2 separate regions of the Homo sapiens genome follow, and region 1 is linked to region 2. A link means that fine-mapping ties the variant in region 2 to the expression of a gene that starts in the linked region. Tissue or cell type: whole blood. Region 2 holds a variant in brackets; the other region holds the start of a gene. All regions are shown on one strand. Distances are between the middles of the regions.

What was found. PIP is the estimated chance that this variant, and not a neighbour inherited with it, causes the effect.
Region 1: it holds the start of ADAM28, and the variant in region 2 is fine-mapped to the expression of ADAM28 in whole blood (TOPMed, PIP above 0.99).

Annotation. Positions count from the first base shown.
Region 1 is chr8:24,290,342-24,298,452 of GRCh38, reverse strand. It overlaps ADAM28 (ADAM metallopeptidase domain 28), which reads right to left and starts at 4,384. Exons shown (of 23, transcript NM_014265.6): 1 at 4,258-4,384. The coding sequence starts at 4,303. It overlaps ADAM7-AS1 (ADAM7, ADAMDEC1 and ADAM28 antisense RNA 1), which reads left to right. Exons shown (of 6, transcript NR_125808.1): 5 at 2,203-2,299; 6 at 2,396-2,639.
Region 2 is chr8:24,336,315-24,344,425 of GRCh38, reverse strand. ADAM28 (ADAM metallopeptidase domain 28) reads right to left here. Exons shown (of 23, transcript NM_014265.6): 15 at 4,858-4,960; 16 at 2,669-2,828; 17 at 1,245-1,325; 18 at 842-920. The region is part of intron 3 of ADAM7-AS1 (ADAM7, ADAMDEC1 and ADAM28 antisense RNA 1); the gene reads left to right. Among named protein-coding and RNA genes, the nearest start is that of ADAMDEC1, 44 kb to the left of the region's middle. The variant T/C (reference allele first, on the strand shown) is at 5,002.

The DNA.
Region 1 (8,111 bases), 46 kb after region 2:
TAAAGCATAAACTTTCAAAAAACAGCGTTTTTTAAAAATTACTCGAGAATGACTTTAATTCATTTAACGACTCAAGAGTCACTTACATTTAACTTTGAAGAACAGAAAAAGGGTTTAAACCAGCTAAGAACTCTTTGAGTCAAAAATGGGGTGTTAAAGTAATGAACTATCTTTTCTTTCAGTGGTGTAAGAGTTACTCTAAAAAAAAATTCAAAATTACTTAAAGCCATGGCACTGACATTAGAATACCTTATTTTTTTTATTTGGTTTGAGTCTTTAAATAGTTTGAAAAAAGGACGCCAATTAAATGGTTTCTAAAGCTAGTTCAAGTGGTTTATGATTTATGCATACAAGTACAGAATCCCCTATAACCTCTTTCAAGAGTCAGTGATCATTAGGATAACTGAATTCTGATCCAATGTGATAAAATAAGCCTCATTACATTGTCACACTTCAAGAACAACATCACGGGGTTCTTCAGTTCCTCATTTCTTGCTGTCACAGAGGTAATCGCTGGGCGTCTTTTATTTCTATTAAATTAACTTTTGGTAAAGGAAAAGAATAACATCAATTATAAAAAATTTTTGAAACATAAGTTCAAAAACCTAAAGAAAAATTGATGATTCTTTTTCTGAGTTAAAATTTTTCTAATTATTGTAATTATTTTGAAACACTAAGATGCCAAGAGGTAAGAAAATTACTCCTGCCAGAAATTAACTGATGATATTGACACAATTCCCTGCTGCCTCCTTAATTCAGGGACACAAAACAAGCATACCATAAGGCACCCACGTGCTGCCTGGTACATTACAGTAGCTAATCAATGCAATTAGTCTTGTTAAGATAGAGAGTTCAAGAAGCCAAATTTCACCAATGTTGCAGCCAACATAAATCTTTTTAAATGCTATATTAGAACACACATGATTCTAACAGGAAATAGTAGTCCAAGCTGCCTTCGTGGAATAAAATAATAGCTACGTTCCCGATTTTTTGTATAAAAGCAGAAAATGAAGTGAGTTTCCTTCTCAGCACCATTCAGAAATGGTAAGAAGGAAAACAGGCTCATCTAGCCAACACAAATTTTCTCTCACATGCACCCTGACCTCTATGCTTCTAGTTAGTATCTGAATCCCAATGTTTCATGAAATTAGAAATTGCAAACTGGCTCTTAAATATGGGCTTAAAATATGTAAGTTATGTAATTTATTTCCAACTTTTTGGTGGCCGAACACTTCCAAATGGAAACCAAAAACAAAGCAAAATAAAACAAACAACAACAACAACAAAAAAAAACCCACAACATTTCTTTTAGAAATCATTGGCAACCTCTCAATCTCTTCAGTTTGAAGTGAATGGAATTCCAGCTCCTTCCAAACTCCTGTCACTCCATATATTCTCTAAAGAAACTAAATGGAATTTCTCTTAAAGGCTCTTATTTTCTGGAAACCTAGAAGTCCCTGAAATAATGGGATCTGGAATACAACAAATTACACAGCCATTGTAGGGATGTAACAGACCTAAATATTGTTTAGCTCATCCATCCTTAAGTTTAATGGAAATGGTGCAGCGTCTTCCCCACTGAATAACATCACGTTAATTATTTTTGAAGCCTGAGGAACAAACACAACTAACTGCCATCCAGGGATTACACAAATCCAAGGTGTAACACAATATGTTTTTACTAATTCATTTTAATACTTGCCTTCTCTCTCCCACAGAACTCACACACTGGATTAGTCTTGACTAGCAAAACCAGATCAGGAAAAAGAAAACTGTTATTTTGGTTTAGATGGGATAATTATTTTTGACTGTTTTGAGTCTTAGAAAAGCCAAAGCTCATTAACAACGTTAATATGAGAGACATTAGTCTGGATTGCTACATTATTTGTTCATGTGTTTGGGGTCATTTTGGAAATGGGAACATGAGTATGTAATATTGACATTTTCATTTTCGTTCAAATGTGTTTGAAACTGTTCAAAGAAATGTCTTCTTTCCAAACTGAACACATCATATTAAACGCTGAATTAGGGTTTACACAAGGATATTGACTTATGTCCTGGGATTCTCTGCATCTCCTCAAACCATCTTGTGGTTTTAAACTTCATGCATTAAAAGTGAGTACAAACAAAAGGGAAAAAACTGCATTTCTATTAGGTCTGTTATTTTGACTATTTAGATTAAACTGTATATTTTCTTTTCAGTCTTCCAGTTACCTTATAAAGGCAAGGAAGAACTGGTAGTTTGAAATAAAATAATTTCAAAAAGTGCTGTACCCCCTGAGTATTCTGCTGTAATAAGGTAAGCACCTTTCTCCTTTGTTGATGCAATCATTTACATCTTCACCCCGCAAACACCTGTCACATCCTTTTAAATATTTGTTTTTCCTTTTCCTAGGATGAAATCCCATAAGTCAATTTTTTCTCGGGATTGTGAAGTTCACTGCACACAACCAGCCTTATTTTACATCTCTTTCTTTTATTTCAACCATCTGGGGACTGGGCAGAAGTCATGGTCAGAGGGGCACATATGTATTGCTTTGATGATGGGGGCAGAGAACAAACAGGAAGAACTGGGAAATGAAAATTGCTTTACTTCTTATATTCTGACTAGAAAGGCAACCCAAATGGGAATCATAACAGGGATAGTTCAGTGGCAAAAAGACACCCTTAAAAATAGAAGCTAGAAGTTAAAGGAGGGGTGACATCACACTTTTAGAGTTGACATCAGAGGAAGTTGCATCTCTTGGTGCCATGTTATACATGCACCGTCGGGGCAGCAGAACTGATTAGTGTGCCCAGTTGCACAAAAGGACTGTAATGTGCATGGGCCCCAGTGTTAGCCATGTGACTCTGTTAATGGATCCAGCTTGATCTTTACGCTCTTCAACTAAGCTAGTGCCCAAGCAGTTCTTGTATTTCAGCTTAGAGGGGGTTCTGGAAAAGCTCTTGGTGATAGCATTTTTGGAGAACGGAGAGAAAAAAACATTTCTATTAAGTCTGCCTCAAAAAGTAGGAATTTCAGGTCAATGTTAAATGCCTGGCATGAGTTTTATATATATTTTTAATATTTCAGGCTTATTTTACCAAAAGAAAGCTGGTGTAACACGTTCACATCAGACAAAATAGGTATCAAAGCAAAAGGCATTAGAGATGAAGAGGATCACAGCACAGTGGGAAAAGGTTCAGTTCAGATATAGGTACATATTATATAAAGCAAAAATACACAGAAACAAAAGGAAAATAATTCGATATTTAAAGATATTAGGTTAAGTGAAATTTTTATAAGTCTTGAAAACAAATCAGAAACAGGTGAGACACAGGAAAATCATTTTTAGCAACAAAGTACTAAGAGGGTGCATGGACAAGGAAAACTTTTCCCTCCCTAAGCCCATACCTCTAGTTGATAATCTGTTCCCATCCCCAGGTCCCAGCAAACATTCTAAGACCCAAGAACAGGTTTACTGGGAGGAATTCGAGGCACTGCAGTTCATGTGCTGAGTTAAATAAGCTCTGGAAATAGAAGCTGAAGAATCACAATACCCAATCTAATTTAACCAAAGTCTAATTAGAGAATTTACCAGAAATTGAGAGACTTGCTAGACATAATTTCCTGTTAGGAAGTAGTATTTTTCTCCTTTCAAATTTTTAAATGTTTGGTATAATCAGCAAAATAGAAGTAAATTATCAATTTAAGCTTAACAGAGATATTTTGTTAAGTAATATCACAGTACCTTATAAATAAAAAATATTAATTATTTCCAGTTAGTCACACGTATTATTACTAATAATGAGTAAATACAAAAATATACACTCAAACAGAAAGAGCCAAACTGGCTCCCATAATAATAGTAGGTATTTTCCTAAGCCTTGTACACAGTAATAAATAAATAAATCTGCCACATCTTTACCATTCTTTAAATGACAAGCTGGGTTTTGATGAATTCCACTTTTTCAGTCAAAAATCATATTCATGATTTAAATTGTGCTGTATGAAATTGTCCCTTTTATTTCTGTATATTCTCAGATGAGATGCATACATATTGGTTCAAGACCTCTTGTTGCCTCTTTTTAACATTGTCTTTGTATCACTCGCAGCCCCCAAACAACAGGTTAAAACCAGCCCAACTGGTTAGTAAGATTGATTGAGAAAAAAGAAAAAGAAAAAAGTCAAAATAGTTTATACAATAAAACTATTAGGAGACTATGAAAAGTTCGCTAATGCATTCAATAGAACCTGAAAAAGAGCTAAATATGTACCTGCAACAGAGAGGAGGAGACTGACTGGCAGGAGACCTTGCAACATGCTGGGTGATTCCAGGAGCACGGTGTCTGCTCTTCTCGCTCAGGTGGGTGCTGCTGGGTCTGTCCCTGCCTCCTCTCCAGTGAGACAGAATGAAACTCCCTGGTTCATTCTTGTCTCTGATTCAGGAAGTGTTTACTAAAGGTGTTGCGCAACCTCGAAGCTGTGGTCCTGCAACAATGGCCCAGCAGGCGGAAGTCCTGGCTGCCTCCTGGCTCTAAGATTACTTGATCTGAACTATTGTTTTGCTCTCCTTTGCCATACTCCCCACTCCAAAGTAGTACATTTCCAACATATTACTATAGCCAGATAAGCTACAAGGAAAGAGGCAACTGCATTAATGAGTCTTGAAAAACATGCTAGACATTTATTTACATTACGGATATGATATATAAATATATGTTTAAATATATTTTTATATATATACAGTTGTAGGAAAAAAGTTATTAAGAATGTTATTTTTCCCCCACATACATAATGTGGTTATGTAAAGCAATTTCTAATTCAACCTAATTACTATATAGCATTCTCTTTTCCATTATTTTATGTTCTATTCCTCACACAAGTGTACTCTCAGGAAGTTTGAACTATCCTGAAATAAGAATGTCTGACAATATAAGCACAATAATTTTTAGATCCTTGGGGGTATTTGTGTCATAACTGGCAATGAGGAGTGTGGAAGAAGGATTCAAGACCCAAAGGATACAATTTTAGGATCTGTCACTGGTGGTAGTAAGGCTAAACTGGGCATGTCTAAAAATCATACTTATAACCAATAAAATAACTAATATCAACTGAGCTGCTTATTAAGTTTTAGGTACTGATAGGGTTTGGTTGTGTCCCTACCTGAATCTCATCTTGAATTGTAGCTCCCATAATCCCCATGTGTTGTGGGAGGGACCCAGTGGGAGATAATTGAATCAAGGGGCGGGCTTTTCCCATGCTGTTCTCATTATAGTGAATAAGTCTCATAAGATCTAATGATTTTATAAAGGGCAGTTCCCCTGCTCAGGCTCTCTTTGCCTGCCTCCATGTAAGATGTGTCTTTGCTCCTCCTTCACCTTCTACCATGAGAGTGAGGCCTCCCCAGCCATGTGAAACTGTGAGGCCATGAAACCTCTTTTTAATTTACCCAGTCTCAGATATTTCTTCGTGATAGTATGAAAATGGACTAATACAGGTACTCTCCTAAATCTACTGTACTTGTTATTTTATTAGTCTTTATGATACTCATGTATTATGCATTTACAATCATTTTGCAGGTGAAAATTTGGGGTTTTAAAGGCAAAATTCAAAAGATTAAGAATCAGTTGTCCCCTCATTGTATAGATTAAGAAGATTAAGCAGATAAAGTCACCTATCCAGTAAGTGGTAGAAGTGGAATCTGAACTATGTGTTGTCTGGGCTCTTAGTCATATACTCTAATGCTTTCCCTTGGCTTAGCTGACTTGTACTCCCAGTATCATTTCTATTGAAAAGATTCTGGGAGAATAGAAATAATTATGAAATTCCTAAGGAATAGAAATTACGCTGAGGACCAGTTATTACCACAAAACCTAGTCCTAGTCCACTAAAATCATGCATCATTTTACAGATTCTGAAACACATTCTCATACTAGAGGGATTACAGTGATTATTGATGTCTCCAAATGATTATACAGTCATCAACTAAAACCACAAAGGAATTTTTGAGTCTAGTTACTGAGCATTTTAACCATCAGGATTGCGATTCACAGATTTCTTGCCTTTTCAACCCAAGTTCCATTGCTTTGTCTTTTCCAGGGAACAGAAAGGATACTTCAACTTTTAATTATTACATATTTTTTCTCCATTAATTCAACGTAATTTTACTTACAGCTATTATGTGTCAGACACTGAGATTGCAGTTGAAAAAACACAATCATGGCCGGGAGTGGTGGCTCATGTCTGTAATCCCAGCACTTTGGGAGGCTGAGGCAGACAGACTACCTGAGATCAGAATTTGAGACCAGCCTGCCCAACATGGTGAAACCCCATCTCTACTAAAAAAAAAAAATTAGCTGGGTGTGGTGGTGGTCACCTGTAATCCCAGTTACTCAGGAGGCTGAGGTAGGAGAACTGCTTGATTGCTTGAACCCAGGAGGCAGAGGCTGCAGCGAGCTGAGATTGCAACAACACACTCCAGCCTGGGCAACAGAGCGAGACAGTGTCTCAAACAAACAAACAAACAAAAAACACAATCACTTTCATTGAGATGTTCACAATCTGACAAAGATAAGTTCAATTACCATAAAATTGCACAGAGTGAGTACCACCTATAAATGATCACAATATCACAAGGTGTTTAGTGTTACAATAGATTTATCAATAGAAGTCAGAGGTCTACACCAAACAGGGCAGGGAGTGCATCCTGGTGGCAGGAGTCCTGGGAAAAGGACTCCCTATTTCATAAATGGTGCTGGGATAGCTGGCTAGCCATATGCAGAAGAATAAAACTGGACCCCTACCTTACACCATATACAAAAATTAACTCAAGATGGATTAAAGATTTAAATGTAAGACCTCAAATTATGGAAAACCTAGAAAATGACATTCTGGACATTGGCCCTAGGAAACAATTTATAACTTAAGTCCTCAAAAGCAATTGCAATGAAAACAAAAATGGATGAGTGGGACCTAATTAAATTAAAGAGCTTCTGTAGAGCAAAAAGAAACTATCAGCAGAGCAAACCAACAACCTACATAACGGGTGAAAATATGAGCAAACTACACAGCTGACAAAAGTCTAATATCCAGAATCTATAAAGAACTTAAACAATTGAACAAGCATGAGATAAGTAACCTCATTTAAAAATGGGCAAAAGGGTGGGTGCAGTGGCTCATGCCTGTAATCCTAGCACTCTGGGAGGCCAAGGTGGGCAGATCACCTGAAGTCAAGAGTTCGAGACTAGTCTAGCCAACATAGTGAAACCCCATCTCTATTAAAAATACAAAAATTAGCCACGTGTGGTAGGCACCTGTAGTCCCAGCTACTTGGGAGGCTGAGGCAGGAGAATCACTTGAACCCGGAGGAGGAGGTTGCAGTGAACCAAGACTGCGCCACTGCACTCCAGCCTGGGTGACAGAGCAAGACTCCGTCTCAAAAAAAAAGAAAAAAAAAAAAAAAAAGGGTCAAAAGAAATGAACAGACACTTCTCAAAAGAAGAAATACAAGCAGTTAAAAAAACATGTGAAAAAATTGCCCAACATAACTAATTATCAGAGAAATGCAAATCAAAACAATGAGGTACCAACTCACACCAGCCAAAATGGCTATTACTAAAAAGTCAAAAAATAACAAATGCTGGTGAGGCCACAGAGAAAAGGAAACACACAATGTTGGTAGGAATGTAAATTAGTTCAGCCACTCTGGAAAGCAGTTTGGAGATTTCTCAAAGAAATTAAAACAGAACTGTCATTTGACCGAACAATCCGTTTACTGGATATATAGCCAAAAGAAAATAAATTATTCTACCGAGAAGACACATGCTTATGTTCATCACAGTACTATCCACAAGAGCAATGACATGGAATCAAGCTAGGTGCCCATCAGTGGTGGAATGGATAAATACAATGTGGTACATATATACCTTGGAATACTATGCAGCTATAAAAAAGAATTAAATTGTGTTCTTTGCAGCACATGGATCACCTAGAGGCCATTAACCTAAGTGAATTAATGCAGAAACAGAAAACCGGTACCTTACACCATATACAAAAATTAACTCAAGATGGATTAAAGATTTAAATGTCAGACCTCAAACTATGGAAAACCTAGGAAATGACATTCTGG
Region 2 (8,111 bases):
AAGAATTTCTCCGTTTCTGCAAACAGAGGATGCAGGAACATGAACAGGAGGACAGAGGCTTCCTCTAGATACCTACACTATATCAGACAGAGAGGGGAGCGTCAATGAGATGATGATGAGAAAAAGCAGCTCTCTCAGGAGAAAATGTGGTGATGAGCTCCCTCCTCAGGGTAAAATGTTCCTCGTAACAACTGGAGGTGGGTCCCCACTCTGGCTCCTTCCCACCCTGAAGACCTATAGGCAGACCTGCCTACCTGCCCATAGAGCTCCCAGCCAGATTCCCCCATCAAGAGAAATATCAGTAGGTACAACAGCACACACAAATGCAGAGACATCCCGTGTGAACTAATCCAGCTCTACCAATTCCACATTGAACTAAGGATCACATATCCTGAAGAAAACTAGTACAACAGAATACAAGTGACGTGGTGACAACAGAACAAACCAACTCAAAAGAAACAGATAATTCAAAGAATAGAACTGAACATACAAAATAATAGGTCATATTCTTAGAGAGTTTTGAGGATATTACATTTTTCCATTAACTTGAGGCTGCTATGAAAATGGAAGAGTCCTAAAGTAAGAAAATTTGTGAAATTAAAATAAGATTACAAATATAAAGGTTGAGGAAATTTTTTTGCATGTGCAGTGAAAATGAAGACACGGAAAATATAATTAAAAGGTATTAAGGAGATTTGGGGGATAAATATTGTGGATTCAACATCAACAGAACAGAAATTTCAAGAACAGAGAAAAGAAGCAGTGAAATCTCATATAATACAAAATAAAGGCTTGGAAGAGGAGAGCAATTTTCTCAGGTTAGATGTGTAATGTTACCTACGGAAGACCACTGAGGAGTCATCGCAGTCGGGAGGGATCCATCCTTCCTCACATTGACACTGGAGCTCATGGTCACACACCTAGGGGAGCAATGATCCTGTTACTGTCCCCGCTAGGCTGACCAGAAACTCAAGGCCCTACTCATCCATAATAAAGTTCATGCAGAAAAAGGAATAACCCCAGTCTCCAGGCTTCCATCTATCTACAAAAAGTATGAGTGAATGAGAGGCATTTCATGAATGATTCCCAGAAGAAATTTCTCCTTGAACCATGCTACTGAAGGCTTGGATAAACTTAGTAATTATCATCATTTAAAGCTGAAAATATTCCTTTAGCTTTCTTATGACTGACCTAGAATGTCATAAGATTCAGAGAGCTTAGGGAAACATATTTTCAGAACTTACAGCATGTCCTTTGCACTTAGATGAGCAATTGGTTGATTTGTAGGCTTTCTCAATATCCACACATTCTGCATTAATGCAAACCTGAAAGTGATGTAGAAAACATGAAGCTTCATCTTCTCTGAACGTAGATGAGAAAGTTGAGGTCTGTGTGAAGAGGCTAGCAGATGTTGTTTAAGGTGGCTCTGCCAGGAGGCTGATGTAGAAGAAGGGAAACAGAGACGGGCTCTGTTGCTTACATTATCCTCTTAGTTAAACCAACCCAAAAAGGTTGATAAAGTCTATCTAAGAATTTATGTATTTTTAAAAATCCAAACAACTGTATATCCCAGAAGCAATGACTATGCAAGAAGTTAAGGGATAAGCAATAATGAGATGATCTTAATGCCAGGGGACCCAGAAACATCTCAATTCTGCCCTAGTCCCAGTACTTCCCTCCCTTAAGGCCCAAGCACTGCAACATCCATGCCAGGTCATGTGATAATGTCTCAATGTCTTTAAAGGCTTCAGCACTAGAAAATACAAGGAAATTAGTAAAACCTGGAAAACGCAGTTAAATATTATATTTTATATAAAATTCCTTGCCCTTGATGCTAGCATATGTTTCAGGAAAAATGGGGGAAAAGAATAAGTTTAAATACTGTGGGTACTTCTTATAGGCAAGACCTAATATTTTAATGTCAAATCAGCAGATTTATAAACATTGCTAAATTTTTATTTTCAGCTCCAGGGGTTCAGAGACCACGTATAAGCAATACCCACACTGAACCACTTAGATAATTTTGGACTCATCATTGGATAAATTAATATTTAAATAGCCAAATCAGTTTAAGTAAATAGGATAATATTCTGAGGATTGGCTTTACCACAGTGAAAAATCAGGGGAACTCTTTGGTCATGTGGATATCTTAGTGAATATATAAAGAGGGTAATTCTAATCTCTTAAGAGAGACAAACCTCATGGTCAAAGTTCGTGAATTGATTGGCCCTGGCTAAACAGTACTCGTATTTAAGTTCATTATATTATTAATGATATACAGATCTGTTAAATGAAGCCCAGTATCACATACACTGGCACTTTCAGTGAGTTTTCAGACTTCGTCTATGAAAGTTAAACGGATGCTACTGTGTGTTATCTGCATGACGATATGATACTCTTCTTGAAATAATGACTATGAGAGTCAATTATTTCCAAATTTCACCACAGTGTTTGAGAATGTTAATGTCAGTGCTTATTCCTGCTATTTACTAGGTTCTGCGCCATTTTCATTTCTGTGTTCCAAATTCAAACTCTGTGGGTTCTATTAAGGCATGGCGAACCCCAAAATCGGGAAACAAGGCACATAGTGAATAACCGAGGGGCAAAACAACAAAGCACACCAAAGTAAAAAACACTATTTTGAGTGAAAGCCACAATTTCAACTTACCTTGTTATCGCCACACTTAGTTCCATTGGCCACCATGCCTATTTCTTGACTTGTGTCTTCAGGATCAAATGTTTTACATGTCAGGAAAGTCACTATCCGTCCTTTCCAGGGCAAATTATCCGACCCACCTTGACAGAACAACTTCCCACACATGGTATCACTGAGGAAAAAGCCAAAATGTATTGCAGGATTCAAATTGCAGTTTTACATAAATGCTCTAGGACTATGGATATTTAACTGATGGTATTTTTCCCTGTAGCCGAGACTCTTAGTTGTACTTTACACTCATTTTCCCTTATTTCTCAGTAATAGGATGCCTGAACGTTAGCACAATATATTATTGCTCAAATAAACAGTATTACCTAGATCCCTGTACACCTAATTTTTGCCAGTTGCCGAAGTGCTGGCCCATGAGAAGAAAACAGAATCTTAAGCACAAATTCTAGAAGGTGGCCTTAAATGAGGAATTATCTTCTATTTCTCAACATTTTCTCATTTTTTGCTGATTGGAGTATGATAGCTAGAGAAGCTATCATAGGCCTAGAGAAACACATGGAAATGAAAGTCATGTGGATGATGGAGCTAGAGGATAAAACATGGATTCCTAACATCATGGAGGCATCTGAGACATCAATTTCTAGCTTGTTTCAGATAGGTTACTCATTTATTTGTACAACTGGCTGCAGAATAATTCCACCAAAAGAAAGCCCAAGTCTCCACTATAATGCTGTCAGAACAAAGCTGAGCCTCCCTTGACACTGCAAGGCATCAGGTGGAGTTACTAAAAGAACTGTCTCCCTGAAGGTGCAGATTAAACTGCTCAACACTCACTCAAGCCATTCATTTACTGCCAACAGGACTAAAAGACAATAAAATGGAAGTCAATTGCTTTATGTAGAATTCGGAAGAGGGCTGTGAAAAAAGTATCCAGAAAGTGATGGCATCAGATTTTTTGATCTCTCTTGGCTGTAGAAAATATGTTTGAGGAGTGGAGAAAGGCATATATTCTCTCAAAATATGAGAGTGTGTTTTTCTTGAATCACTTAGGTAAAGCGATAAAGGATGGTTTAGGGCACAGGGAATTTCAGGCTAACTCTTCACTATAGCCAATGACTACTGAGAAGTGACTAGGAGGGTAGTTTGTGGGGTGAAGGAGCTGCTTGAGCCACTAGAGCACAGAAACTAATGCTCATGCAAAGAGTTATATGGGACACTGTTGTGTGCACAGACTGCAAAGGAAAGATGGCGAGACCCACTCTCTTCCCATTCACCACCTACAATTGCCCTTCCTCTGGCCCTCACATACTGCCTTTTACATAATTTCCTCTTTTGAATCTGCCCTGGTTTCCTATAAAGAAGAGACCACAAGACCACCGAAAATGATTGTTCTTTAGGCACAGATTCTCCCAAGAGATAACCCTATATCCAAAGTATAGTTTGGTAATACCTGTCATTCAGAGAAATTCGTGTCCAATAGACAAACTTTGGGAAATGTTGATCTTGTGCAACCTCTTGTTATATATTATTTGGTATGTGTAAAATTTAGAGCAGGTACAAAGAGTTTAATCTATAATTGGATTTTAAAACTCATCTCAAAATTGCAGAATTAAACCATAGAAAAATCCCAAGTTCTTCTGGTGTGCTGTTCTATAGTGTTTTCCCGGATATCAGTACTAAAACTAACAAACTCTTCAGATGAATTGTCAATATTTTCATATTGTATTTTTTCTTTATGTAATTCTACTGAAAGTTTAAAAAACTGTTCAAGCACTGCATCTGTTATTCCTCTGGGTAGATAAATATTTCTACTCTGAATCTTACAAGGAAAAACATGAGATTGAGAAAGCATCTGATTTATACTGGGAAATCCCTGGACAAATTTCTAACCAGACCCATTCTTTGTGGCATGTTCCATCACAACCATTCATTCTACCCAACAATGACTGTGCTTTGTGTCATCTGAAGCACCCACCATGAGATACTTGAAGAAAGAAGCCATTTCTTATTTGTTGTTTTAGACTCGGTACCTAGCCCACATCATGGCACATAGTAGTTACTCAATAAATGTTTGTCAAATGATTGATGACCAAATGCACTTTCCCTTTAACTGGAATAAATCAGAATGTGTAGCTGGAAGTGTACCATTGCTCTAGTCTGTGAAGCAGGAAGGTTCAGACAAGGCCACTTACTTTGCTTTGCAGGGAATGAGTGTGTCATCCACTCTGCGACAGTACCCGTACTTTGACCCACCTTCATTCCTGTTGTAACATGACTTATCTGCAACCTCAGTTCCTGGGACCAGGATCAGTCAGCAGGGAAAAGAAAATAGATTT[T/C]TGAGATTCAAGAGATACTTGAAAATAAAAGATTTTAAAGATTCAGTGCTGGAAAGCGATTTATAAAATATAAAACAAGCAAGAAAAATACTATTTTAGCATAATTCCATTGACCACTCCTAGAAACATAGGCTGTAGTAATTTGGTATCAAATGAGCTGGCTGGAATTACAAATAATCTTTTAAATAATCTGTTACTCTGTAACAAACTCCTACTATGTGCTAGGTACAAAAATAGGCATCACATATTTCATGTCTCAGGTAATCTTCCTCAGATCTCCATCAGACAAAACACATTGTTAAGAGCCCAGGCTTCAAGCAAGACTGAGTAACTGTGTGAACATGGGCAAGTGTCTTAACCCCTCAGTTTTCTCATCTGTAAAATAAGGATATATAATTTATATTTATGTGAACATATATATTTAATATTTACACATATATAAAAGTATATATATACACATTATATATGACAGTACCTACCTCAAAGAGCTGTTTTGAAGATTAAATTACTTAATATAGGTGAGCCACTGAGAACAGTGCCTGGTCAGCAGTACATGGTTGACAAATACTAGCCATTCTTATTGCCATTCTCAATTTATTAATAAGGAAACAGAATCCTATCAAGTCACAGAGAAAGACCTATGTTCCTTCTCTGTGCTGAGGTACCCTCTCTTCAAGAACAAGTAATTCTGTCTTAAACGTTTGGAAATTTTGAGTCTAGCCTTTGACAAACAGCAAGCTAAGTTAAAATAAACACCTATGAAGATACGGCATTGTTTTTAAGAAATACTTTTAAACGAATTTCATGTTTCAATGTGTAAGATAAAATGAGTTTTGTTACTTTTTATTATTTGTATCTTAGTAAAATGTATTCATGTTTTATTATAATACAATATCTACATGGAAGAAAAGAATCATTAGTCATGAATAATCAGGGAAAAGCATGATATTCCTAATCTACATGGAAGAAAAGAATCATTAGTCATGAATAATCAGGGAGAAGCATGATATTCCTAATCTGAGACTTCAGAGTTATTGCTGCTGATATTGCAGAAGGTATCATTCATATATCTGGCATCATGCTGTTTTATAACTTCTTGCCAATTAACAATATAGCTGTCCTTTCCCCAGGCATTAAATTTTCTAAAGCATCACAGCTGCAAAAATTGTATTGAATTAATGCACTTTATTTAACTAATCCATATATTTTGGATTTTGAGATGTTTTTCAGTTATCCACTATCATTAAAAAATGCTGGTTGAAAAATCCTCATAATTATTTGAGTACAATTGCTAGGAGAAGGAGTAAAAAACAATTATTTTTAGATTTTGTGTATGCATTTTTCTGTCCGTAAAGATGATGCTAACTTGTGTATTTACCAGCAGTGTACGAAGGGAGTTGTTTGGTTATGTTTTCTGTGACACTGAACATTAACATCTGTAGCAAACTTTTGCCAATTAGCAAATGTAGAAGATTAACTTGTTTTCATTCAGGTTTTGTATATTGCTAATGAGTTAAAATGATTTTAATTTTACAGGACATTTGTATTTCTTCTTTATGACAAATTGCCTGCTTATGCCTTAGCCACATTTTCAATACTTGGAATTAGAATTGATTTGTGGGAATGATTTGATGCCAAAAAGAATGATTTTTAAATTACTTACAAAGTTGCAAGACTTTTCAAACTTCCCAGATTAATTTAAAATAAATACGTGATCCTCTGTGAATTATAAAATTTGGAATTTTGTTTAGGCAAATTGTTTTCTCTGGCCTTTTATAATGGCTGTATTTAAATGTATGACTTAAGAGGTCTACTCCATTTCCTGATCAGATAAATATGTTCAATGTTAATTCAATAGACAATTTTGAGCTTTTTACTAAAGCCAGACACTGTGCTGGGAGGCACTGGGAATACAACTGTGAACAATGTAGACAATGTCCCTGTTCCAGGAAGTTTACAGATTTGCCGAGGAGACTAATCATAAAGTCGGACAAAGGAGGGAGGAGGGTAACAGTTAATATTGTTTGCAGTTAATATTTACTACAAGATAATAAAGGTGATGCTCAGAACTTCACCTCTGTGCTAAAGATTTTCTTTCTCCTGGTTTTTGCCGTATACTGAAGTTAGCCAAGGAAACATGAGCTTCTTAACCAACAATCAATTTTGTTTCCACCTTTAACCTGGCGCATCCACGAAGTGGAGGCAAGATTGCTGAGGCCTGGTTCCAGGATACTAGTGAGCTTGCTGACATACTAAGGGAATTGAGCTTTGCTCCTCAAATTGTGTCTCAACCCGCTGTAGCCAAAGACAGAGAAGTTTACAGGGAGGTTTTTCTAGGGTCTTGTCTATTTGTTTCCCAGGTTTCTTGTTTTCACAGTGCATTGCAAGTTAGGAATTTTTGTTGATTTTCTCAATCTTGTTTTAGCTCTGTTTTCAGGAATTATGAAAAGTTTCTGGCACGCAATGACCCCTTTCAAATAATAGGACTATGTAGATTTTCTCTATTTTAATAAATATTGTTTCAGTCATTTAAGTAGGAGTCTGAAACTATTAGGAAGGGAGTATGGCAATTAAATACATGTACATCATACACATCATATCCAGAAAGTCCAAATAACTGGTTTTTAAAAACTTGCCTTTTTTTTTCAACTTAAATTTTGTATCCTCTGACCAACATCTCCCCACCTCCTCCCTGTCACACCCTGGAAACCAGCATTGTACTTTCTGCTTCTATGCGTTCAACTTTTTTAGATTTTAGGTATATAAGCTAGATCACTTATGATCTAAAATTGACTTTCTAATAAAGTTATTTTTCTTTTTTTTTCTTTTTTTTTTTTTTTTTTTGGAGACGGAGTCTGGCTTTGTCACCCAGGCTGGAGTGCAGTGGCACGATCTCTGCTGACGGCAAGCTCCGCCTCCTGGGTTCAGGCCCTTCTCCTGCCTCAGCCTCCCGAGTAGCTGGGACAGGCGCCCACTAGCACGCCCGGCTAATTTTTTGTATTTTTAGTAGAGACGGGGTTTCACCGTGTTAGCCAGGATGGTCTTGATCTCCTGACCTCGTGATCCGCCCGCCTCAGCCTCCCAAAGTGCTGGGATTACAGGTGTGAGCC